Homo sapiens: one gene and its partners. The protein of the gene in region 4 purifies or fractionates together with the protein of the main gene of each other region. This does not show direct contact. Each region holds a gene or a part of one and is shown on either strand. Other genes may lie near its edges. The genes, in order: MVP, LARP1B, TOP3A, MAP7, BMP2K, PARP4 and GRHL1.

What was found.
Region 1: the proteins of MAP7 (region 4) and MVP purify together in Homo sapiens (affinity purification with mass spectrometry; one large-scale study listed by BioGRID and IntAct). This does not show direct contact.
Region 2: the proteins of MAP7 (region 4) and LARP1B purify together in Homo sapiens (affinity purification with mass spectrometry; one large-scale study listed by BioGRID and IntAct). This does not show direct contact.
Region 3: the proteins of MAP7 (region 4) and TOP3A purify together in Homo sapiens (affinity purification with mass spectrometry; one large-scale study listed by BioGRID and IntAct). This does not show direct contact.
Region 5: the proteins of MAP7 (region 4) and BMP2K purify together in Homo sapiens (affinity purification with mass spectrometry; one large-scale study listed by BioGRID and IntAct). This does not show direct contact.
Region 6: the proteins of MAP7 (region 4) and PARP4 purify together in Homo sapiens (affinity purification with mass spectrometry; one large-scale study listed by BioGRID and IntAct). This does not show direct contact.
Region 7: the proteins of MAP7 (region 4) and GRHL1 purify together in Homo sapiens (co-immunoprecipitation; one large-scale study listed by IntAct). This does not show direct contact.

The regions. Positions count from the first base shown.
Region 1 is NC_000016.10:29,837,462-29,840,961, reverse strand, and holds part of MVP (major vault protein), read right to left. Parts: intron 785-3,500; coding exon 503-784; intron 1-502. UniProt on the Homo sapiens protein: Required for normal vault structure. Vaults are multi-subunit structures that may act as scaffolds for proteins involved in signal transduction. Vaults may also play a role in nucleo-cytoplasmic transport.
Region 2 is NC_000004.12:128,179,812-128,183,311, reverse strand, and holds part of LARP1B (la-related protein 1B), read right to left. Parts: intron 1-3,500.
Region 3 is NC_000017.11:18,308,495-18,311,994, reverse strand, and holds part of TOP3A (DNA topoisomerase 3-alpha), read left to right. Parts: intron 1-3,053; coding exon 3,054-3,113; intron 3,114-3,500. UniProt on the Homo sapiens protein: Releases the supercoiling and torsional tension of DNA introduced during the DNA replication and transcription by transiently cleaving and rejoining one strand of the DNA duplex.
Region 4 is NC_000006.12:136,547,623-136,551,638, reverse strand, and holds the start of MAP7 (ensconsin), read left to right. Parts: upstream 1-1,216; 5' UTR 1,217-1,230; coding exon 1,231-1,297; intron 1,298-4,016. UniProt on the Homo sapiens protein: Microtubule-stabilizing protein that may play an important role during reorganization of microtubules during polarization and differentiation of epithelial cells. Associates with microtubules in a dynamic manner.
Region 5 is NC_000004.12:78,873,850-78,877,349, reverse strand, and holds part of BMP2K (BMP-2-inducible protein kinase), read right to left. Parts: intron 1-3,500. UniProt on the Homo sapiens protein: May be involved in osteoblast differentiation.
Region 6 is NC_000013.11:24,509,979-24,513,977, forward strand, and holds the start of PARP4 (protein mono-ADP-ribosyltransferase PARP4), read right to left. Parts: upstream 2,801-3,999; 5' UTR 2,728-2,800; exon of another isoform or gene 2,545-2,727; intron 1-2,544. UniProt on the Homo sapiens protein: Mono-ADP-ribosyltransferase that mediates mono-ADP-ribosylation of target proteins.
Region 7 is NC_000002.12:9,950,289-9,954,492, reverse strand, and holds the start of GRHL1 (grainyhead-like protein 1 homolog), read right to left. Parts: upstream 2,801-4,204; 5' UTR 2,660-2,800; coding exon 2,640-2,659; intron 2,582-2,639; exon of another isoform or gene 2,198-2,581; intron 2,192-2,197; exon of another isoform or gene 2,030-2,191; intron 1-2,029. UniProt on the Homo sapiens protein: Transcription factor involved in epithelial development. Binds directly to the consensus DNA sequence 5'-AACCGGTT-3'.

The DNA of each region.
Region 1 (3,500 bases), on a different chromosome or scaffold from region 4:
AGTGGACATGCTAATATTTTTTTTTGACAGAGTCTCACTCTGTCACCCTGGCTGAAGTGCAGTGGTGTGATCTCGGCTCACTGCAACCTCCGCTTCCCAGTTCAAGCAATTCTCCTGTCTCAGCCTCCCAAGTATCTGGGACTACTCAGACCACCACCACGCCTGACTAATGTTTGTACTTTTAGTAGAGACAGGGTTTCCCATGTTGGCCAGGCTAGTCTTGAACTCCTGACCTCAGGTGATCCGCCCGCCTCGGCCTCCCAAAGTGCTGAGATTACAGATGTGAGCTACCGCACCTGGTTGGTTCTAACATTTCAAATGAGACATTTAAGGCAGAAGGATGGCAAACACTCCACGTAGTGCCCTCCCCCAACCAGACAGCCCACCTGATATGGCTCTCCATGCTGCTGAAGTCCCTGCCCACCTCTTCCACACACCCAGAGGAAGCCGCCACCAAGGCCAAGGCCACGTGGCAGCACTGCTGCTCACTCCCAGCCATTACCTTTCCGGTCTTGACATCCTGCACATAGATGCCCTCGTTCTCGTCTAGAGGGATGGCCTGGCGCTCCTCCACCACCTCCACTTTGGCAGATGGCACATACTCCAGGGGTCCGCGGATGAGCCAGTGGTCCCCAGCCTGGTGTGAGACCTTCTCCTCATCCTCCCCCTCCTCCAGGGGCTGCAGGGCCCTCAGCAGCAGCCCCTGCTGCTCCGACAGCACATACACATCCTGGATGCCTTGTTCCAGCTGCTCTCCTGGCTGGAGGAAAAAAGACTTCTCTCCCTAGTGGGGAGACGTGAGGTTAGGGTCAGTGCCTTTAGGGTTGCGGGTGCTTCCAATGGTACCTCCCCAGTCCTGTGCTGTTTCAGGCCTGTGTGGAGGACAAGAGCACCAGAAGCCCGCCCCCACCCCCACATCATAATACGGTGAGGCACTGTCTGGACTGTGAGGCTCTACACAAACGCCTGCCAAATCTCATCTGGTCAAATGTGTCCTTGAAAGATTCCATAACTGTCAGGACCTGGATCCACGCAAGCTAAACCATTAAAAATCAACCTGTTTTTTCTTCTTTCTCCCAGGCTTTGTTTTCTAGAGATGGTGTAACCTAGGGCTTGACAAACTCTGGTTTTCAGGCCAAATCTGGATTCTGCCTTTTTTTTTTTTTTTTTTTTTTTTTGAGATAGTCTTCCTCTCTTGCCCAGGCTGGATAGTGCAGTGGCATGATCTCAGCTCTCTGCAGCCTCAACCTTCCAGGCTCAAGCAATCCTCCCACCTCAGCCTCCCAAGGAGCTGGGACTACAGATGCGCATCACCACACCCAGCTAATTTTTGTGTGCTTCGTAGATGATGGGGTGTTGCCATGCTGCCTAAGCTGGTCTCAAAGTCCTAGACTCAAGCGATCTACCCACCTCAGCTTTCCAAAGTGCTGGGATTATAGATGTGAGCCACCACGCCCAGCACCGCCTGTTTCTTAAAAAAATTTTGAGATATAATCCACATATGAAATTTTCCCATCTAGAGTATACAATTCACAATTCAGTTGTTTTAGTATACTCAAAGTTGTCCAACCATCACTGCTATGTTAAGTCTAGAGTATTTTCGTCATCACCCTGAAAAGAAATCCTGTACCTAGAAGTTACTGCCACTCCCCACCTACCCCACCCACCACTAGTCTATTTTCTTTATGTGTTTACCTATTCTGGACATTTCACATAAATGGAATCATGCAATATGTGGTCTTTGATGTCTGGCTTTTTTCTTTTTCTTTTTTTGAGATGGAGTCTCGGCTCAGCAGCCCAGGCTGGAGTGCAGTGGTGGGATCTCGGCTCACTGCAACTACTGTCTTCCAGGTTCAAGAGATTCTCCTGTCTCAGCCTCCCGAGCAGTAGCTGGGATTACAGGCACCCGCCATCATGCTAGCTAATTTTTGTATTTTAACAGAGACGGGGCTTCACCATGTTGGCCAGGCTGGTCTTGAACTCCTGACCTCAGGTGATGTGCCCACCTCAGCCTCCTAAAGTGTTAGGATTACAGGCGTGAGCCACTGCGTCCAGCTGGCTTCTTTCACTTAGCATAACATTTTCAATTTTATCCATGTTGTAGCACGTATGTCATTATTTTTTGTTTTTCCTAGAGACAGGATCTCACTCTACTGCCTCAGGCTGGAGTACAGTGGCACAATCATAGCTCACTATACACTCCACTTCCTGGGGTCAAGCGATTTTCCCACTTTAGCCTCCCAAATAGCTGGGACTACAGGTGTGCCACCATGCCTGGTCAATTTTTAAAAGTTTTTGTAAAAATGGGGTCTCACTATGTTACCCAGGCTGGTCTCAAACTCCTGGCTTCAAGCAATCCTCCTGCCTCGGCCTCCCAAAGCACTGGGATTATAGTCATGAGCTGTTGCGCCTGGCCTGCCATTTCTTTCTTATGGCTGAATGATATTCCATTGTATGGATATGCTACAATTTTTTATCCATTCATTATATATGTACATTTGGGTTATTTCTAATTTTTTTTTTTTTTTGAGACAGTCTTGCTCTGTCACCCAGGCTGGAGTGCAGTGGTGTGATCTCGGCTCACTGCAACCTCCGCCTCCCGGGTTCAAGCAATTCTCCTGCCTCAGCCTCCAGAGAAGCTGGGATTACAGGTGCCTGACACCATGCCCAGCTAATTTTTTTGTATTTTTAGTAGAGAAAGGGTTTTGCCATGTTGGCCAGGATGGTTTCTAACTCCTGACCTCAAGCGATCCACCCGCTTTGGACTCGTAAAGTGCTGGGATTACACATGTAAGCCACCATGCCTGGCCTATTTCTACTTTTTCTGCCTCCTGTTTTTGCAGATAAACTATTCCAGGAGCATGGCAGTACTCACTTGTTTACGTAGTGCCCAAGCTGCTTTCCTGACATAACAGCAGAGTTGAAGAACTTCCACAGAAACAATGACTCACGGAGCCTGGAGTATCTACCATCCAGCCCCCTTTACAGAATGAGTTTGGCAACTGCTGGTATTCCCACATATAGTTCAGAGAGGGGATGAAGTAGGGGGTGGGAGAGGGTAAACCAAGAGGTTTATTTTACAAAAGATGACAAAGCAAAGTGAACACCAGGATATTAAAGATGTGAAATATAGTCACTGCATGATAGTTCAGTCCATTACAGACTGCACATGGTGGTCCCGTAAGATTATAATGGAGATTTTTTTTTTTTCTGAGAGTCTCACTCTATCGCCCAGGCTAGAGTGCAGTGGCACGATCTCGGCTCACCACAGGCTTGATCTCCAGGGTTCAAGTGATTCTCGTGCCTCAGCCTCCCGAGTAACTGGAATTACAGGTGTGTGCCACCACACCTGGCTAATTTTTGTATTTTTAGTAGAGACAGGGTTTCCCCACGTTGGCCAGGCTAGTCTCGAACTCCTGACCTCAAGTGATCCACCTGCCTCGGCCTCCCAAAGTGCTGGGATTACACGTATGAGCCACTGTGCTGGCCTATAACGAAGC
Region 2 (3,500 bases), on a different chromosome or scaffold from region 4:
GAGTCAGCCCCATCCCTTGAAGCTCTGAAGCCAAACATTGACTGCTCCTTCCTAACTATGAAAGTCCTAGATGGCTTCTTCTCCCAATAGAAGGCTGTTTTGTCTACACTGAAAATCTATTGTTTAAGGTAGCCACACTTTTTTTTCAGATCTAGACCTGCAGAAATGTAGCCACTTTTATTATCTTAGCTAGATCTTCCTTAAAACTTGCTGCACCTTCCCCATCAGCACTTGCTCCTTCACCTTGCACTTTTATATTATGGAGACAGCTTCTTAAACCTCATTAACCAACTTCTGCTAGCTTCCAACTTTTCTTCTGCACCTCCCTCGCCTCTTTCAGTCTTCAGAGAATTGAAGAGAGTCAGGGCCTTGCTCTGGATTATGCTTTGGCTTAAGGGAATATTGGGGGTGGTTTGATCTTTTATCCAGACCACTCAAACTCTATCCCTATCATCAATAAAACTGTTTCACTTTCTTATCATTTGTGTATTCACTGGAGTAGCACTTTTAATTTCCCTCAAAAACTTTGCCTTCATATTTTGGCTGTTTGACACAAGAGATCTAGTTTTCAGCCTGTCTTGGGGCTTTCAACGTGCCTTCCTCATTAATGATGACATTCCTAATTTTGAAGAATTTTGACTCTTAATTTCACTTGAACAATTAGGGGCCACTGTAGGGTTATTAGTTGGTCTAATTTCAACATTTTTGTCTCTCAGGGTACAGGGATGCCCAAGAAGAGGGGGAGAGATGGAGAAATGGCCAGTCAGTGGAGCAGCCAGAAAACATACAATATTTATTAAGTTCACTGTCTTATCCTGGCATGGTTCATGGTGTACCAAAACAATTACAATAGTTAACATCAAAGATCACTAATCACAGATCACCATAAAATACAAAATAGTAGCTGGGCATGGTGGTTCATGTCTGTAATCACAGCACTTTGGAAGGCCGAGATAGGAGAACTGCTTGAGTCCAGGAATTCAAGACCAGCCCAGACAGCAGAGACCCCATCTCTATAAAAAATACAAAAATTAGCTGGATATGGTGGCATGCAACTGTAGTTCCAGCTACTCAGGAGGCTGAAGTGGGAGGATCACTTGAGTCTGGGAGGTTACGGTTGCAGTGGGCCATGATTGTGCCACAGAACTCCAGCCTGTGCAACAGAGTGAGACTCTGTCTCAAAAAAAAAAAAAAAAAAAAGGCCGGGTGCAGTGGCTCATGCCTGTAATCCCAGCACTTTGGGAGGCCAAGGCGGGCAGATCACGAGATCAGGAGATTGAGACCATCCTGGCTAACACGGTGAAACCCCGTCTCTACTAAAAAAATACAAAAAAAAAAGTTAGCCAGGCGTGGTGGCGGGCACCTGTAGTCCCAGCTACTCAGGAGGCTGAGGCAGGAGAATGGCGTGAACCCAGGAGGCAGAGCTTGCAGTGAGCTGAGATCACACCCCTGCACTCCAGCCTGGGCGACAGAGCGAGACTTCGTCTCAAAAAAAAAAAAAAAAAAAAAAGGACATCATAATAATAATAAAGTTTGAAATATTGCAAGAATTACCAAAAGGTGACACAGAGACATGAATTGAGTACATCTGTTAGATAAAGGGCATTGATAAACTTGCTCAACACAGGGGTGCCACAAACCTTCACTTTGTGAAAAACAGTATCTATGAAGCACAACAAAACAAAGTATACCTGTAAATCCTAGAGGATCAGTAAAAAATAAAAAAGAGACATAACTAATAAGTCAATAGTAGAGATAAAATAGGATCATTATAAAAACTCAATCCAAAAGAAAGCAGAAAAAGAGAAAAAAGAATGAAGAATAGATGAGACAGCTGGGCGCAGTGTGGCTCATGCCTGTAATCCCAGCACCTGAGGAGGCCAAGACAGGTGGATCACCTGAGGTCAGCAGTTGGAGACCAGCCTGGCCAACCTGGTGAAACCCCATCTCTACTAAAAATACAAAAATTAGCTGGGTGTGGTGCCAGGCACCTGTAATCCCAGCTACTCAGGAGGTTGAGTCCTCACCTGAACCTGGGAGCCGGAAGTTGAAGTGAGCCAAGATCATGCCATTGCACTCCAGAATGGGAGACAGAGTGAGACTCAGTCTCAAAAGAAAAAAAAAAAAAAAAGAATGGATGAGAAAAATAAATGATAGATTTAAATCCAACCACATCAATAACTACACTAAATGTGGATGGTCTAAACATACTAATTAAACAACACATTATCAGACTGGGTTATAAAAAGCAAAGAAAGACCCAAATATATGCTGCCTACATTAAACCCACTTTAAAACAAAGAGATTGCTTAAAAGTAAAAAGGTAGAAAAAGATACACTGGCAAACACTCATCTAAAGAAAGTTGGCATAATTATATAAATATCAGACAAGGCTGACTTCAAAACAAGACATTACCAAGGTTAAAAAGAAACATTACTGGTGAGAATGCAAAATGATAGGGCCACTTTGGAAAACAGTTTGGCAGTTTCTTACAAAACTAAATATATTCTTATTATACAATCCAGCAATCATGCTCCTTAGTATTTATCTAAGGGATTTAAAAATATGTCCACACTAAAACCTTTACATAGATGTTTATAGCAGCTTTATTCATAATTCCCAAAACTTGGAAGCAACAAAGACAAGATGTCCTTCATTAGGTAAATTAAACATTTTCCATTGTTGTTGATCTCTACATATACTGCTCCAATAAAAAGAAATACTCTGGGGAAAAAAACTGAAAAATCACTTATAACCCCAAAATAACTATTAGTATACCACAGGTGTGCAGAAGAACATACACACTTTTTATCTTTTAGAGACAATATAGCTAGTAAGAACAATGTAAAATAATCAAATGTGTATCACTAACAAGACAGATTTCAAGGTTTTGAGAGCATGATAAACTCCCTAGCATTTCTTTTCATGAAACTAACTAATCCTTCTTTTCTAGTAACCAGTCAAAAACATATTTTCCCAAAGTTTTCAAATGGAAAAACTATCAGTTAATTATTCTGAAAATATCTAGTATAAACACAAAATGGTTTTTAAGAAACACAGGCTGGGTGAGGTGGCTCATGCCTGTAATCCCAGCACTTTACAAGGCTGAGGTAGGAGGACTGCTTGAGGCCAGAAGTTTGAGACCATCCTAGGTAACAGAGCAAGATTCTGTCTCTATTTTTATTTTAAAAAAAGCATCACAAAGCAACGAGCAATAAATCACCTCTGCAACCCCTCTGAAGGACAAAACATACCATAGTGCTTTGCAGATCACTGGCACTCTAAGAGATTTGCTCTAGACTTCTTCTTTTTTTAATTAATTTTCTTCTTTCTTATAAAAAAAAATTCCTGCTAATAATCAGCTAATCTTAATGATTTTCAAAAAAGGGGGAAAAAAGCAAAATAACAATGCTTCGTTTCCATATTATTTATACAGTTTGAGTTGTTTGTTTAGCACATTAATGTCCTCAATAAATATCTACTAAGAACCTATTAAATG
Region 3 (3,500 bases), on a different chromosome or scaffold from region 4:
ATGGGATTTACCACCTTTTTGGCCTACTGCTGCTCCATGACAACAGGGGCCAGGGCCACTTCTTCCCCTTGGCCATCTTTCCTTTTGGCATCTGGGGCGGCTAGAGGAGAGAGGCTGCTGAAATGTCTCATCTTCAAGGAATCCTTCCCTCACCACCTGTTCCCCCACACTAGGTCAGAGACCCTTACTGACATGCTGTCATAGCACTCTATTCTACTTGAAAGGCATCTACTAGTTACAGTTAAATAATGGGATGTGCGATCATTTATTTGATTTTTGTCACTGCCTCTCCTTGGACTCTAAACTCCAAAGGACAGTGATTATATTTTGTTAATTGCTATGTCCTAACGCCTAATATGGTGTCTGGAATGCAGGAAACTTTCAATAAATATTAATACTTGGGCTGAGCGCAGCGGCTCATGCCTGTAATCCCAGCAGTTGGGGAGGCTCAAGCGGGCAGACCACCTGAGGTCGTGAGTTCAAGACCAGCCTGGCCAACATGGCAAAACCCCATCTCTACTAAAAATACAAAAATTAGCCAGGTGTGGTGGCGGGGTCCTGTAATCCCAGCTACTCACGAGGCTGAGGCAGGAGAATCGCTTCAACCCGGGAAGTGGAGCTTGCAGTGAGCCTAGATTGCGCCATTACATTACAGCCTGGGCGACAGAGTGAGACTCCATCTCAAAAAAAAATTAGGCCAGGCATGGTGGCTCATACCTGTAATCCCAGCACTCTGGGAGGCTGAGGTGGGCGGATCATGAGGTCAAGAGATTGAGACCATCCTGGCTAACACGGTGAAACCCTGTCTCTACTAAAAATACAAAAAATTAGCCGGGCATGCTGGCAGACGCCTGTAGTCCCAGCTACTCGGGAGGCTGAGGCAGCAGAATGGCATGAACCCGGGAGGTGGAGCTTGCAGTGAGCCGAGATTGTGCCACTGCACTCCAGCCTGGGCAACAGAGTGAGACTCTGTCTCAAAAAAAAAAAAAAAAATTCATAGTTGTTGAATGCATGTTTGAGCTGAGCCTGAAAGTTTTACCAGGCAGTAGAAACTGTAAAGAACAACCTAGTGGCTTGAAACTGCTTGGCATATTCAGAAACAGTGAGAAGTTAGGGGTGTGGTGTGGTGGGAAGAGACACCGATGAGTTAAGCAAGAGCAGCAGTTGAGTGCAGATCATAAGAATCTTAGAGAGCCATGTAGGTTGAGTGGTAAAATGCACAGAAAATTGACCATTTTAATCATTTTGAAGTATATAGTTCAGTGGAATTTTGTCCACTAAATGTGCCACCATCATCATTATCTAGTTCCAGAAGGTTTTTTTTCACCCCAAGAGGAAGCCTCATATCCATTAAGCAGTCACTCCCCTTACCCTCTCCTCAGCCCCTCACAACCACGAATCTGCCTTCTTTCCCCATGGATTTGCCTGTTCTGGGCATTTCCTATAAGTGGACCCATATCTTACATGCTCTTTTGTGTCAGGTTTCTTTCACTTAACATAATCTTGAAGTCCATCCATGTTGTACCATGTATTAATATCAGTTCTTCATTCCTTTTTTTTGGTTTTTGAGAAGGAGTCTCTCTCACTGTCGCTCAGGCTGGAGTGCAGTGATGAGATCTCGGCTCATTGTAACCACCGCCTCCCAGGTTCAAGCGATTCTCCTGCCTCAGCCTCCCAAGTAGCTGGGATTACAGGCACCCACCACCACGCCCAGCTAATTTTTTGTATTTTTAGTAGAGACAGGGTTTCACTATGTTGGCCAGGCTGGTCTCAAACTCCTGACCTCATGATCCGCCCACCTCAGCCTCCCAAAGTGCTGGAATTACAGGCATGAGCCATTGCACCTGGCCTCTTCATTCCTTTTTATGGCTGAATAATATTCTATCATATGGATAGATCATATTTCATTTTACCATACATCAGTTGATGGACATTTGGGTTGTTTTCATCTTTTGACTATTGTGAATAGAACTTCTATAGACATTCGCTGGGCGTGGTGGCTCACACCTGTAATCCCAGCACTTTGGGAGGCCGAGGCAGGTGGATCACGAGGTCAGGAGATTGAGAACATTCTGGCTAACACGGTGAAACCCCATCTCTACTAAAAATACAAAAAAATTAGCCGGGCGTGGTGGCAGGTGCCTGTAGTCCCAGCTACTCGGGAGGCTGAGGCAGGAGAATGGTGTGAACCCGGGAGGTGGAGCTTGCAGTGAGCCGAGATCACGCCACTGGACTCCAGCCTGGGCGACAGAGCCAGACTCCATCTCAAAAAAAAAAAAAAAAAAGAACTTCTATAGACTTTCATGTACAAGTTTTTGTTTGAATGTGTTTTTTTGTTTGTTTTTTGTTTTTTGAGACAGTCTCGCTCTGTCACCCAGGCTAGAGTGCAGTGGCGCCATCTCCACTCACTGCAACGTCCACCTCCTGGGCTCAAGTGATTCTCCTGCCTCAGCCTCCCCAAGTAACTGGGATTACAGGCACACACCACCACACCTGGCCAATTGTTGTATTTTTAGTAGAGATGGGGTTTCACCATGTTGGCCAGGCTGGTCTCGGACTCCTGACCTAAAGTGATCCAACTGTCTCAGCCTCCCAAAGTGTATTTGAATGCGTTTTTAATTCTTTTGGGTAAATTTGTAGGAGTGGAATTGCTGTGACATGTGATAACTCTGTAACTTTTTGAGGAAACACCAACATTTTCCAGAGTGGCCAAAGCATTTTACATTTCCACTGACAATGTCCAATTTCTCCACATCCTCAACAACACTTGTTATTTTACTTGTTTTTTTTATTATTCTATTTAATTATTATCCTAATGGGTATGGAGTGGTACCTCATCATGGTTTTGATTTGTGTTTTCCTAATGATTAATAACATTGAGCATCTTTTCATATGCTTGTTGGCCATTTCTTATCTTCTTTGGAGCAATGTTGGTTATATTTTTGGTATCATAACCAAGAAATCATTGCCAAATTCAGGATCAGAAAGAATTATACAAAGGAATCCATTGTTTTAAACGTAATTTATATTTTTTACTTATTTTTGTTTTATAGAGAGAAGGACTTTCAAAATTCAACAAGATCTATGAATTTGATTATCATCTGTATGGCCAGGTAGGTGCTAAAATATTTCTAAAATATTTCAATCATAAGCAAGAGAAAGTAGTCAGCCTCGTCATATGTAGAATATGTCGCTGTCTTAAGAATAACAACTGTTAACAACCTAAAGGTTCCTGGATATGGGGTGATCACTTTATAATTTATGAGGAGTTCTCTTTTTAATAAAATATGGTCCCATCTCAGCTCTTCATTACAAAAAAAAAAAGCTAATATACAATAGTTTGAGGAAAATTTAACTGATGCAAGAGGCGTCAGTTATACACCATATCATTAGAATGGTGATTGTATTCCTGTGACTTTTGGCTTTGAAGAGCTTATATTTATGTTTATTTCTTCCCAATCAGGTTTTTAAAAATGTCTTTAATAGAAGCTCCTCCCTCT
Region 4 (4,016 bases):
ATTCTAAATGGTCAGTTTGCCTATTCCATTATAGAAATGACACTACGGGAAAATTCATCATCACAGACCACAGCAGAAGTGTTCTTTAGTTAAAGCTCTACCTAGTCATCCAGAAAGCCAGTAAGTAAACCAAATAAAAATAGTTCACTGGGCTCAGAGTGGCAAGTTTTGCATGCAAAGATCGTGAAAATTGTAACCCTAACAATAAATCCAATACTGTTCTCGACTCTCTTGTGTGTCCAGTGCTGCTGCAGTCCTTGGAAGGCTTTTAAACTGTTCAGAGCTTGCTGGTTATCTTCAGCCAAGCCAGAGAGTGGGAGTGCAGTGCATTTTAGTGTAACCATGCGGAACTGGTCGCTCCTTGATTTTGTGCCGTATGTTTCCATTTGTGTAGGCTTTTTCCCCCCTCAGTATTTTGTTGCTTATCCTTTAGAGCGAAATTGGTTTTTCCTCGGCCAATAATCTGTTTCTTTAAAAAAAGAAAAATTCGTTACCTATTGCCTTTTTTTCTGGTCTTCCTGAGCAAGCCAGAAGTCACAAGGTCGTTTACTAAACGGAAACTAAGAAAAAGAAAAGCCACATCAGCCGGCACAAGCCTCTCTAACTTGTGTGCCCTGAGGCTCATCAGATGCGAAGTCCTGGCGACAAGATAGGGTCGCCCGCAGTGGCTTCCTAAAGCGCAGATCCAGGCCGGCTCCCAGCGTGGAATCCGACCCATGTACTTCGCCTCTCCACGTGGCATCAGATGCTCTGCCGGCTGTCACCGTGAACTCCAGCCCTCGCGGAGCCGACACTGACCTGGCTACTTCAGAGTTCGGAGGGAAATAGCGTCTCCGTACCCTCGCCCCACCTGGGCTGCTCCTCGGACCGCCGCTCGTCCCAGACTCCAGGAGGCGCCACCAGGCCTCGCTGACCCCGCTCCATATCTCCGGGAGCCCTCAGCTGGTCGGCCGCGGCGACCGGAAGCTCCGGACTGAGGTACTGGTTCCGCCCGCCGCTCTTCCAGCCGAGACTCGGCAGCGGCGGTCGGAGCGGCTGCCACGCCGCACCTGCCCGCGAGGGGGCGCGCCAGGCCCAGGCCGCAGCCGACTGCCGCGCTCTCTGTCCCCGCCCTCCGCCATCCCCGGACTGCGCTCACCTGTCTGGGCCGCTGGCCTGGGAGGCGGGGGCCGGCGGGAGCCAAGCCGAGGAAAGGGCGGAGCGGCTCTCCGGGCGCGTCATCGGAGCACCATGGCGGAGCTAGGAGCTGGCGGCGACGGCCACAGGGGCGGCGACGGCGCAGTGCGAAGCGAAACAGGTGACCGCACAGCGGGGATAGTGGGGGTCCCGTCGGGCAGGGGACGGCGAGCGGGGCCGGCGGGCTGGCACCGAAATCACCCGGCGCCGGCAGCCCCCTCCCCGCCCGCGCGGCCGCGGCCCGGAACAACCGGCCCTGCGCGCCGCGCACCCTGCTCCGAGAGCGCCTTCCCCCGCCCTTCGCCGCCGCGGCTCGGCCAGCCCGGCTCGGCCCCGGCCGGGGTTGCGGCCGCCCTCGGGCGCTCCACCGCGACTTTCCCGCAACAGGTGGAGGCGAGCCGGGGGAGGAAACGGAGAGACCCCGGCCGCTGCCCTCCCCGCCGCGGCCTCGGGTCTAATTCAGTTGAATGGGAAATCGTATCCCCCAGACCAAACCAGTGGCCAGAGAGTCGTCGGCCAGGTGCGACTGGCAGGACGAGCAGTTTCTGGGCACCTCCTCCCGCCTTCCCTGGTCGCCCCGGGTGCCGGGGGCTCCTCAGCGGGGTCGGTGTGGGGCAGGACCGCGGGGTGAGCGGCCCGCCCCCCAATCTGGTGCCCGCAGTGGCGACGACCGTCGTCCGAGGGGACCGAGCTCGGGAGGGCCGGGGCCCAGTGCAGCACGGTGGGGGTTTGCGAGTGCGGGCTTGACGGGATCAGACTTTCGTTGACTTGTCGGAGTTCTCAGAGTTTTTTGTTTTTAGTCTGTGCAGGAGCCCAAAGGAGGATTGTTGGCTCTGCAGCCCGGGATTTGGTGGTCAGGCCTCTGTGTTGAGGATACCCCTCCCCCACAACCTCCAGGGGCACACTTAGGGACAGGGGATCACGTCCCCAAGACCAGCAGCAAGGCTTCCCAAGACCAGCAGCAAGGCTTCCCAACCCCGCCCATCTCTCCATAGTATGAAGCCGATTTTTCTCCCTCGTGATTTTTTTTTCTCCAGAGGCTATCTTGCAAATCCGTCCCTCTCCACTGGTTCCCTCTTCTATTCTTGGCCAGTAAGCTGTTTCTATATCTTCCTACACTTGGGGATGGGGGCAGTGAGGCAGTTTCTTACTTTAAAAAGAAATTCAATTCTTAGACTCTCCAATTGCAAGCTGTTTTCCACTTCCATACGGTCACAATCGGAAGCATTTGTTTCCTAAATGTAAGAATCACTGTCTCCCCACCATCAAGTATGCTTATTTTAACGTGAAAGGTCCAGAGAGCTCTGAAACAGTATTTGCAAATTATGTATCTGCTATTGCTAGGAAGAGGTTGGGTACGTAAAGTCTAATGATTTAATCCCTTCAGCCAAGATACCTGAGGTTAAGACTGACAAAGTATCTTGAACTTGTTTAAGTCATGCTCCTTCCTGTAGGGAGTTTGTCTTAATGTGTTCGCAAGATTGGTAGATCATTATTTTGTTTTGGGGTGGAGAAGAGATGCCTTTGTAATTGCTTTCGGGAATTTGATGAGCTAGACGCTGGGACGGGGCTCCCCCAAGTGAGGGCCCCGGGAGAGGAGCATCCTCATTTGTAAATATACGGCATGATTTTCGTTCCTAACCCTGACCCAGTAACTGCATGTGAAACAACATTGTTCTAGCGAGCTAAGTGTTAGTTTGTGCTCAAAAATAAACTTTCTAGAATCTGCACGTGAACAACTTGTTCAGACATAAGTGAACTGACTACAAACTGTAGGATATTCAGTGCCTGAGCATGTTAAGGAATAGGCCGTGCTTCCAACAATTAATATACAAATCAACCATGTGCCTGTCAGTGTAATATTTTCTTTTATTAAAAAGGGAGTTAAATTGGCTGTTATCTCCTTCATAGAAAACATTTCTTCCACACTTTTGCCTAAAAACTTCATTTTCCAAAGGACATTTTTTATATATGGTCTTGAATAATTATACTTTATAATTTCACTGAAAACTTAATTCTGGCCCCGCATCTCTTTCCTATTTTTCTACCCCAAGATTACTATTAATGTTTTTAGTGTTCAGAAGCATTTGTGTCAGCAGGTGCCAAAGAAAGAAGGAAGGTGTAAATGTATTTTTTTGAATCTAGGTGGTAGTTATTTTGAGAGAACAAGTGAGATTGTTTGAATTTCAACAACTTAAGTTATTCCATATATTTAAAACACATGACCTATATCTGAATATGAGACTTTAATTTAGCACTTCATTCTGGTGAACATATTTCACATTATACACATCCAAATACTGCAAGTCTCATTTTTTTAAACAATCAGAAGTTTGTATGGAATTGTTGGGGGGGTGGGGGGGGGTGGTGGTGGTGGGTGGCCGTGGACAGAGAAACTATTACCATCAAGAGTTGAAAATTGCCACCTTAAATGGCAACATTTCTTGAGGGATTAATTTTATTTCTTTTTAGAACTCATTATTATGAGGTAGAGTCCACTCTTAAATAACTCTTAGTTTTTGGGTCTCTATACAAAGACTGGTCTAATTTTAGGGCACTTTAGATGAGAATATCAGGTTATTATAAAAATGATACCTGTAATGTGTTCAGAATTATATGTGTGAGTGTGTGTGTGTGTATATGTGTATCAAAGATGAATTGACAGTGGTGGCGTGTGGCCTATGAAATGAGACCGTTCTTAAGCATATTGAAAGCTATTATATAAACCCAACATTTAAAAACCCTATTTCTGTGGGTATATATTCTCAAAGTTAGTCAAATCACATTCTTTGTGGCGAAAACATTTATTTTTCTTGAGGATGAAAAGTTCTTCCAATATA
Region 5 (3,500 bases), on a different chromosome or scaffold from region 4:
TTGTACATGTTTGTGTTTTGTGTTATAACCAAAGAGTCAAAATGTTTTTAAATTTTCAAAGTTTATAAAGTAAAAAAGTCACAGTAAACTAAGGTTAATTTATTATTGAAGAAGAAAAAAATTTTATATAAATTTAGTGTGTTCTAAGAATGCAGTGTTTATAAAGTCAAGTCTATAATAGTGTACAGTAATGTCCTAGGCCTTCACGTTCACTCACGACTCACTCATTGACCCACCCAGAAAAACTTCCAGTCCTCTAAGCTCCATTCATGGTAAGTGCCCTATACAGATGTACCATTTTTAATCCTTTATACAATATTTTTATTTTACCTTTTCTATGTTTAGATACAAAAATACTTACCATTCTGTTACAATTGTCTATAGTACTAAATATAGTAACATGCTATACAGGTTTGTAGCGTAAGAGCAATAAGCTATATAATAAAGCCTAGATGTGTAGTAGGCTATACCATCTAAGTTTGTGTAAATGCACTCTATGATGTTCATACAACAATAAAATTGCCTAATGATGCAATTTCTTAGAACATGTCCCCATTGTTATGCAATGCATGACTGTATAGCATAAGAACGAGACAATGTAAGAAAGCTATTAAGTTCCTTTCATAATTCATATGCAAATCCTCTTAACAGTAGTAATGAAGGGAGAATCCTAATGTTCAAAGTAGTATCTCAATTTCACAAGTCTTAACTGATCCCCTAAATTTACCTAACCGTTGAGAGCTCATTGCCATTGCCACCAAACAGGTCTTAGAAGAGAAAAGAAAGGCAAAAGTCGTCTATTTAATCCCTTAGTCCAAGCCCCTTCAGCATATCTGAGCCAAGAATAGGATACTTAAATACTTACTGAAGGCTAGCATATAACAGAGGAAAATAAATAGTAAGTTACCTACAAGTAAATAGACTTGCTTAGTAAATAGAACTTAGGTATCTTAATTTAAAAAACAATTCAGTTTAAAGTCCATTCTGGATGCATTAACTGCCAGTCTGAGCCTGCCTCTGTGTGACAGAGTCCCATCTCTCCTTAAAACACAGATCAGATGTTTTTACCCAGAAAATTGAAGGAAAAAAAAAAACAGATCACAGTGGGTAAAACTCAAAGAGAGATGGGCATCCCCCCTCCTGTCTGTCAATCATTCCTTTTAGAACTTTCGGATTCCCTATATGAATCACCCTCTTCCTATTCCCAAAATAAATTTATGGATTCCTATTGGCAGACTGTAACTCAATAGGGTTATCACCTTAACCTAGTTTAAACAGGTATTAAAAAATGTCTACAAGTTATCTGACATTCCTCCCTTCGAAGGGTGAAACCGAATTTCACTGCCCTTGAACATGAGCTAGATCTAGTGACTCAATTCTAACAAATGAAATATGGCACAAGCAGCAGCCCATGACTGCTGAGACTAGGTCTAAAAAGACATTTCAGATTCCTCCTTGCTCTGTCTCTTGGATCACTTATTGAGGGAGAAACCAGAATCAATAATTCCTTGTTCAAAATAATTTTTGCCTTGGCAAAGAGAAAACTCAAGCAGTCTTTTGAAGAAATCCATGTGGCAGGGGACTGAAGCCTCCTGCCCAAAGCCATGTGAGTGAACTATCTTGTAAATTACATCCTTTATCACCAGCCAAGCCTTCAGAGGACAGCCGACCCAGCCTTACCAGACACAACCACCCTGTTAAGCCACCCCTAAATTTCTGATCCAAAGAAAGTATGTAAGATAATAAATGTTAACTGCTGTTTTAAACCATTAAGTTTTGAGATAATTTATTAGGCATCAACAGATAACTAATATAACAGGGCAATTATATCATAAGAAGATAACGTATGCATAGATGATGTTTATTTTAACTATTATTGGAATATAACACAGTAATACTCTCTGATATTCATACTAAAGATAAATTAACATGGTGGAAGAGTAGAAAGTTTAGCAAAAGATAGTAGAAAAGAAAAGGAAATAATTATTCCAACAAAGATAGTGACTCTTTCCCTCTGTCTAAGGAACTACTACTTGGTTTCTTATATTCTACTCAAATAGCCCTTATCCACTGAGAGACAAACATTTAACCCCAATTCTCTTCTTCCACTGACTTTGTCATAAGCAGGAACATTAGTTTAGAGCTCTTTTTAAATTGTTACAGAAGATACTATACTCAACATACAATCTGATGTTAAATAGGTATAATATTAATGAAGTAGCATTGACGTACCAAGTGTGGCTGGAGCAATGTTCCCACATGAAGTTCCACATTTCTAACCTTTAGTGGCTGAGTGTATAATTTTTTCTAACACATCCTTAAATACATAAATTTCATAGGAGTGGAGTAAAACAAGTCTTATGCACTTTCCCAGATATGCAACCCAATATTTCCTAACCTGGGGAATGCAAGATGATTTTTGTGATAACTTATTTTTTAATAGTTACACAGAAATTAAAAGAAAAGTGTCTAATGTATCAAACCTGTGATTTGTCGAATAGCATCACTACAAATGAGAATAAAGCAGACAGTGCTATAGTAATTAATATACATTACAGGCATCAGCACCTTGCATGCCAGTGTATGCCTCAAATCCTTGGATATCCAACTTTCTTTTTAACTAATCAGAAGTTTAGACAGATTTCCAATTCATCATCCCATTCTCAACAGTGACATAACTTTGCTTCCAGGAGCTGACAGACTTTTAGAATATGAAGTATACACAATATATATGCTACGTCAGAGAAGACAGTTAATATCTTTTCTATTTTCCAACTAAATAAACTAGATTTGACATTTTTTATGCTAGTTAGCATCAAAAGTGGAAAAAAGCAATCATCTAATTAGTACAATAGCCTCATCAGTATCTTTAAGCAATTATCAAGCAGAATATCTGATTTTTAATGAGGAAAATTATTCCATTCTTATCACTAGGGGACTTAGCAAATTTATTAGATTACTATTTACATTTCATACTTTATATTTTAGTGGATCTTATTTGTTTAAAATGTATAATATGTTTTAATTTTATTATACACAATAATGTTACTAATTTATTAAAGAAAAAAGCACTATGTGAATAAAGCAAAAAATTTTAACTAGAGTAGATAAATGACAAAGAGTTCGGCAAATACTGATCTGAACTTTTTGTGTGTGTGTGTGTGTGTGTGTGTGAGATGGAGTCTCGCTCTGTTGCCAGGCTGGAGTGCAGTGGCATGATCTCAGCTCGCTGCAATCTCTGCCTCCCAAGTTCAAGCCATTCTCCTGCCTCAGCCTCCCAAGTAGCTGGGATTACAGGCGCGCACCACCACACCTAGATAATTTTTATATTTTTAGTAGAGATGAGGTTTCACCATGTTGGCTAGGATGGTCTTGATCTCCTGACCTCGTGATCCGCCTGCCCTGGTCACCCAAAGTGCTTGGATTACAGGCATGAGCCACCGCACCCTGCCTGATCTGGACCTTTAAACTGGCCTTTGACCTATACTCTGCTCTCTCCT
Region 6 (3,999 bases), on a different chromosome or scaffold from region 4:
CATGAGCCACCACACCTAGCCCCCACTGTTGATATTTTAATTTTTTTGGTGTTATTATTTCTTGTATCATTGTATTTTCTAAATTATTAATATTCTATATTTAATGTTATAGCCAGTTGCTCTTTACTTTTTAAATAGGACTTTCACTTTCACAGCTTATTTAGCTTTTAGTGATATCCTCCCCATGTCACTAAATATTCTTTGAAGGTGTTTTTAGTGGTTACATAAGCTTTGCGTTTATTTCATCCTTCCCCAAGTCATCAGATACTTGGTTACTTAAAAGTGTTCACTATTGGCCGGGCGCGGTGGCTCACACCTGTAATCCCAGCATTTTGGGAGGCCGAGGCGGGCGGATCACGAGGTCAGGAGATCGAGGCCATCCCGGCTAAAACGGTGAAACCCCGTCTCTACTAAAAATACAAAAAATTAGCCGGGCGTAGTGGCGGGTGCCTGTAGTCCCAGCTACTTGGGAGGCTGAGGCAGGGGAATGGCGTGAACCCGGGAGGCGGAGCTTGCAGTGAGCGGAGATCCCGCCACTGCACTCCAGCCTGGGCGACAGAGCGAGACTCCGTCTCAAAAAAAAAAAAAAAAAAGTGTTCACTATTAGAAATACACTTTAATTAAAATGCTTGTACATATATTTTTTTGCCACATCTCTGTCATAGTTTCCCTAGAGTTGATGGCCAGAAATGGAATTACTGAATCAAGGAGTATAAACATTTTTTAGCCTTTTAAAAATTGTGGTACAGTTTTTAAAACTGTGTGTACAGTTCAGTGGCATTAAGTACATACACATAGTTGTGAAATCAAAGTATAAACATTTTATTTTATTTGAGACAGGGTCTGGCTCTGTCTCCCAAGCTGGAGTGCAGTGGTGTGGTCACTGTCACAGCTCACTGCAACCTCGACCTCCCTCCCAGCAATCCTTTCACCCGGCCTACTTAGTAGCTGGGACCACAGGCCTGCACCACCATGCCCAGCTAATTTTGGTAGAGACAGGGTTCTTACTATGTTGCCAAGGCTGGTCACAAACTCCTGGGCTCAAGCCATCCTCCTGCCTCAGCCTCCCAGAGTGCTGGGGTTACAGGTGTGAGCTGCCACGCCCGGCCCAGAGTAAAAACATTTTAAACATAAATCTGCGGTCTGTTCTTAGCACCTGCGGCTGCGTGGGAGGTATGGAAAGGCGCACTTTGGGTTTCGTGAAATCTCAAGTCAGGTCTTGACTTCTCTCTTTCCACAGATTCATCTCTAGTCTCTGTAAAATGCCAGCCCTCTTCTGGGTTAACAGCGCCTAACCGACATGCGCCACTAGTTCTTCCTTGTTTCAAAGTGTTCTCTAAACACAGAGTTAGTTCATGTTTTCATCAGCGCTGATTACGTACATATGAGATGTGGCGGACACTGGGCTAGGGGCTGGTTATTCTCTAAGGCAAATCTGCACAGTCACTCCAGCCTGTCCCCCTTCCCAGCTTCTTCCCCAAATAACATTCACAGAGTGTCTTCCACCCAAAGACAGCAGGGAACAGCCCCGATTCCTAAGAAACCCTCAGCGCGCCTCCTCACAAACTCTTGGCTGCTCCATAAACCATTGGTGTAGGTGGAATCAAGTGGCTTCCTGCTTCACAGGTCTTCGTCTTTACCACTGGCATTTCCTCCTCTCGGAAAACCCTGAGGAGTCCCTTTCTGGGCAGTCTTGATTCTACAGCCTCCGCCTTCCGAAGTGTGTGAGTCAGCACACGCTAAGATCACTTTTGATATACAGTGGGCATTCAATAAAAGCTTGCTTACTAAAAACTCTCACGTATCCATTAAAGCCCAGGATTACAGAAAAGCCTTCTGACACTATTTGCATTTTGGACTCAAATGGCATCAGTAATGCACCTCCCTAATGGGTTTATTAAACCCTTAAACAACAAAGGTACTACTTTTATTTCACTCCTACATGATATACAGTAGCTCTACGCACACAAACAAGACCTAATGTTTACTTAATAAATGATAAAGTCAGATGTAATGAGTCTGCAACACGCACATCTCAGAGCGAACTTCCCCTTTATCATAGCACTATGCTTGGATATTGTCATATAATTGTTGTCATCCAGCAGTCCAGAATTGAAAGTGCTTGGGCTTGAATATTTAGCAGCGCCTTAGTTTTCTAGAACCTGTGATCTACCAACTCGATCCCTGGGTGAACCATTCGGCCCTCCTAGCAGGAATTACTTAACTGAGTTAGAGGTTTTCAACTTTGGACCTCAACAAACACATTGTTTCTATCACGGTGTTCCCAATGACTCACGAGGTCAGATAGTACTTCCTGATTACTCACCAAACCACCTTACTTTTTGCACAATTCGAAACCTAACTTTAGGAAAGAAGGCCGTTTGGCATACTGGAAACAAGAAACAACGCGTGCTACTGCGAACCGCACCGCACGGGGTGCGGAGACTTGGTGTGACTGTCGGCTCCGGTGGGCGCCCCCCACCGCACCCGGTTTCTCGTCACCAGGGCTGCGCCGCGGGGCAGAGCGGAACGACCGCAATATCCCTCCCCGAGGGCGCTGGCTGCACTAGCTAGTCCACTCCCGAGCCTAGCAGCGCCGTCAGGCCCACAGCGCCAACGCCGCGCAGGGCAAGGGTGCAGCCACTGGCGGGAAAGTAGTACGCGGGCCACTTCCTGGCTAGGACTACAGGGACCTTTGCAGCCCCCCACCCCGCAGCGCCCACGCACCTGCCTAGAGGATCCAGCTAGCTCCGGACGCTCCCCGATTCCGCGCTCCTTGCTCGCGGTACTTCCGTAATCTAGGCTCTCCCTGCCCCCGGGGCTGGGCGGGCGCCACTGCGCCGGAACCCCGCCCCGCACCAGGCGGGCGCAGCGTCCCAAGCAGGGACGATAGCCGGAACGCGCCCGGAATCGGGTCCGCCAGGTGGGGAGCGGGTCCCCGGCCTCTGGCGGGGTTTCTCTTCCAAGATCAGCCGGAGGGTTCAGGGCTTTCAGTTTCATATTTCAGGAGGGATTTTGTCAATGAGGATTAATACAAAGCTCGGCTTTGAGAGAGGTGGGTGGATGGTGCTGTCCTTTAACTGAGAAATGGAAGGGATTCACAAGGCCGGGAAAGAAGAAAATTTCGGGAAAGTTCGTGGAAACAGGAGAGTGAGATAATAAATTTACTTTAAGCCTTCCTGCGTTTGAAATTCGTGACAGTGTAACTAGTTGGAAATATATTTATCTGCCATTCAAGAGAGGCAGGGGGCTGGAGATACAGATCTGAGATTCACTGAAATGGGAATAAAGCAATGGGGAAGATTCAGATTTTTAGGATACTGAATAAAATGAGAATAGAAAGGATAGAGTAGAGAATACAGTGGAAAGGGTATGGGGTTGAATCCTGACTCCACAATTTATTACCAAGGGGGCTGGGGACAAGGTAATTTACCAAGTTTCATCATTACAACCTACTCTATAGGGTTGTCTAAGAAACAACAAGAGATTCTGGGGGAGGAGAGAGACTGATTCCTAGAGTTACCACATCGTAATGCTCAAAATGTCCAATCTTCAACAAAAAATTATGAGGCATGCAAAAAAAAAGGCGAAAAAATGGCCAATTCAAAGGAAAAAAGAAATGAACAGAAATTGTCCCTGAGCTGAGGAAGCACAGACATAGGAATTATTAGACAAATACTTCAAATAAACTGTCTTAAACATGGACAAAAAGTGAAAGGAAACATAGAAAAATAACTGAAAGAAACAACCAGGAGAACAAAGTCTCAATAAATAGAGAATATGCAATAGAAGATGTGCAAATGGTCAACAAGCATGAAAAAAAGCCCAGCATAACTAATTATCAGAAAAGTGCAAATTAAAACTGCAATGAGATACCATCTTACACCAGTCAGAATGGTTATTATTAAAAAGTCAAGGAACAACAGATGCTGGCAAGGCTTTATTGAAAAGGAAATGCTTATACACTGTCAGTGGGAATGTAAATTAGTTGAACCACTG
Region 7 (4,204 bases), on a different chromosome or scaffold from region 4:
TGTTATTCCCTCTTTCTACTGTGGCTGCCATGCCTTAAAAATTCCTACCTGAACACAGTGGGGAGGGGAGAAGCAGCAGAAAGAAAAAGGGATCCTTCACGCAATCCTCCAGGGTATATGAGAAAGCCAGAATATTCTACTGATTACCAGCAGATTGAGCATGGAATGTGGCCAAAGGGGACTGTAAATCAATAAAGAGGCATAATTTTCTGGCATGGGAGTTAACTGTTTATCTTAGAGATAAACACTTAAGGATATCCAACAATAAATGAAGCCACTGAACAAAAAGTTTTAAAAAAAATAGGTGGGAAAATCTGGCTTTTAAAAAATCTTTGCTAGTTTTCCACATTGCACAAGAACTGTTTCATTTTAACACTGTAGTTTGGTGGGAAAAATCCAAAAAAATCAATGGCGATCTTAGTGAAACCTTACAGAAGATTTAATTTAAAAGATTAAAGCAAACATTACTAATTCCAAAAACTTGAAATGTAAACAGTCTCAACAACTGTTCGGTTGGTACTATTTAATAAGTCAATAAAGAGAAAAAATGGAACACTGACTCTAGCAAAACAAAGCAGTTTATTTTCAAGGAGAAAAATAAATTTTAAATGTTTGGAACTCCTCTGAATTATTACAATTCTAACAAGCAAATTGAAGGACTGGCTCTCATTGCAACACACAAATGAAATATGTAAATGGCCTAAAGGTGACCTGCCTATTTTAAAAGTGAATGTAGAAAGACTGATTATCTTTTCAAGTAATCAACAAAGGTTAGCGTTTGGGAGTCACCCAGGGCCTTTAAGAACAGATACAGATTTAGAAAAAGGAGAACATCTTCAAAAAAGGGGAAAAAAATCCAACAATGTATCCTCAGTCAAAATGAAGTGTTATTTGAAAGCCAATGTTTTTACTCACGTTTTGGCATAAACGTTACATTTGGTAAGAAAGTCTTGAGGTGGTATACTATTTTAACACAAAACAAACATAAAAGACTGTTCAAAGCCAGCAGATCATTTGTCTAAAAATGGAGAAGATTGCTTACACAAATCTCAACTTTAAAGAAAATAAAGAAATATACAAAGTGGCATTCCCTGAGCCATCAGGACCAGAGTACAACAGCTACTGAACGGCTGGTGCCATGGACTGATTGACTGATGTACTGCTAAGCTATAATTAATAGCGTAATAGCTACTTCCAGAAGACTATGACAGCACTTGGCTGTTCAATTCCCTTAATGCTAGTTTTCAACTTCCCTTCTTCTCCCACCCACATCCCAAATTTGTACAAGCAATAGAAAACAGAGAAAGAAATGGCTTTATGTTTGGAATCACCCTGAAGGTGTTTCATATTTCCAAAGCCTGCCTAAGGCCAAAATGTTAGCTTTGGAAAATTTGCCTTATCTAAACTATACGTCAAGAAATAAACACAAAACCAGTTGCCTTTCTTAGTCCACTTCCTCATGACAGTCAGGAAGTAGGCTTCAGTCGCCGAAGGCTCATCATCACTTTCAGGTGAGCCTTAAACTCCGCGTCTGCGATCTCTCAGACTTCTGAAATATGTTTCAGGCAATAATTTAACTGCATATTCTACAACATAAGAGTAATCCATTTAAGATACTCCATACAAAATATCTATCTCATCCAGAAAAAGAACACACTGACAAAAACCGATCCTTCACAAATAACTAAGAAACTGGGAGGGGTACCTATCTGCCTTAAACTTCCTGATCTGAAATATACTGACTGGCCTGGTGCGATTTCCCTGTTTTTTCTTTAGTAAGTTTTTAAAATTTTTAGGACAATTTTATATTTTCAGAAAAGCTGCAAAGAAAATACAGAAAACTCCCTCGCCCAGTTAATCCCCCATGCCTTATTACACTACCACCTCACATTTGTCGAAATACGCTTTTAAATCACACACTCTAAAAAGCATATTAGCTTGTACAGTACTTTCTCGTTTAACACCCGGATTTCAAAGTTTCATCCTCTTGATTCTCTCGAGCACTAAAAACACGGTAATCTGTAATTACCATCAATGATGCAAGTGGCAAAATAACTCCTACAGCCGTTTTCCCACTCATGCCGCCAGCCAGGGAAAAGAAAACGCCCGGACATCGGGGCACTTCAACCTTTCCCTACATTTCTGTTTTGGAGGTTCCAGCAGGTCGCCGAGTGACGAGCCTGAGACCACAGATTACCTGGAGAAGTCCACCTGTCCCGACGCGGCGCGAGCCCCACCAGGCTCCCGAGGCCGACCGGGCAGGAGAGGGGGGCGGGGAGGCCCGGGGGCGTTGGCTGCGCCCCGACCTCGCGCCGCACCCGACCGCGCCGGGGGCCCGGACCCCAAGGTGCGCGCCCGAGGGGACCCAACCTGGCCGCGGAGGAGGGGAGGAGGGTGGCCCCTCCGGTGTCGAGTTTCCCCGAGGACAGGGTCTCTCCTCCCGAGGCTCCGACCGAACAAAGAGCACGGCAGGGCTAAGGGGCAAAGGCCGTGGCGGCGTGGAGTGGACAGCGGCCCCCGGCTCGCGCCCCGCGCCCGCCCGCCCGCGCGGCCTCGGGTCTGCGCCCGGCTCGCTCGCTGCAGGTGCGGCCCCTCAGCGCGGCCCCCCCGCGGCGGCCGGACTCCTGCGCCTCACTCACTTGTCGTACTCCTGTGTCATCGCGCCCGCTCGCCGCTGCCGGGCCGCAGAACTGGACTTTCGGGTTGGGACAGTACACCCGATCCGGGGGGAGGAGGCGGCGGCGGCGGCTGCGGGTCCGGAGCGGCGGCCCCGACGGGTTGGGTTTGCTTTTCTCGCTCTGAGCCGGCTCCGCGCGGGCTGCGCGCACTGGGCGCCGGGCTCGGCCGCTCATTGGCTGGCGATGCGCCGGCTGGGGGCGAGGCCTCGGGGCTGGGAGGCCGGTCGCGCCTCCTGATTGGTCGGCGAGAAGAGCGCCGGGGCGGGGCTGACGGGGACGAGCGGCGCGGGGCGGGGGGCGGGGGCCGCGCGTTCCGCGAGGTTGCGCCCGGGACTGCGCTCCCGGGGCTGCGCGCCCGACTCGCGGCCGTACGCGCCTGCCCTGACAGGAGAGGGAGCGCTGCGGCTGCGGCGCGCACCCGCCAACCTCCGCGCGCACCGAGAGCGCCCCCGCTCGCGCCCCGCCACCGCCCCCGCCGCCCCCGCCGTCCCCGCCGTCCCCGGCCATCCCCTTCGCGACGAGCCCCGGCCGTACAGCCGCCTCCTTCTTCGCTCACTCAGGCCTCCGCGCCCCGTGCCCACATTGCCCGCTGTTCCGGCCCCAGCGCCCCGCGCTGCCCCTGCGCTCGCCCGGCGGGGGCGCCTCTGCCGGTCGCCGCGCTCCCCGGTCGCGCGTCTCACCTCTCGGTTCTCGCAGGCTGTCACGCCCGAGTCCCGTGGCTTCCCCCGAGAGCCGTCTCCGGAATGTCCCTTCTCCTGGCCCACCGCGGCCGCGCGCTTTTAGGATTTCTTGCCCTCGCAGCTCCCGCGGTCCCCTCGGCGGCAGTCCCTGGGGCTCCGCGATGTCTGTGCCCCGCAGCCTCCCGGGCGCCACTTCCCCGCGCGGCCGCCCCACGCTGCCCGTGCAGTCGCGCGCCCCGGGCCGGCCCCGGGCACCACTCCACCGCGACGGCCCCCACTTGTCCTTCCCGAGCTGCCGTCTTTCCCAGGGTCCGCTCACTGAGTCCCCACATGCCCAGCGTCGGACCTGACCCTCGGACAGGCGCGGCCCCAGACGCCGGGGACAGGGCAGTCAACAGAACAGACACAACTCCTCGCCTTCCTAGTTGGGGTAACGGGCAATACAAAAACAAGTAAATGGTGTGGCTGGTTGGAAGGTAAAGCAGGCAGGCCCTGGGGAGGCGGGGAGGAGCGAGGCTTTCAGGCTTGAAGGAGATGAGGGGCCACGAAGGTGGGACTGTACCTGAGGCAGGGACCCTGGTGTGTTTTGTGACCCTTGAGGAGACCCGGGTGGCTGGTGGGGCACAGGGAGGCGGGAGCTGCGGTCAGAGATAGTGGGCGCAGGGGAGCGGATTGAGCAGGGCCTTGCCGGCTTCCGTAAGGACTGTGGCTTTCCCTCTGGGCTAGGTGGGGACGCCTTGGAGGGGCTTGGAGCAGGGTAGTGACAGGGTCTCACATTTTAAAATAGTTCTCTGCTGCTGCGTGGTGGGGACCAGGTAGGAGGCCATTGCCATGATGCAGGCCGAG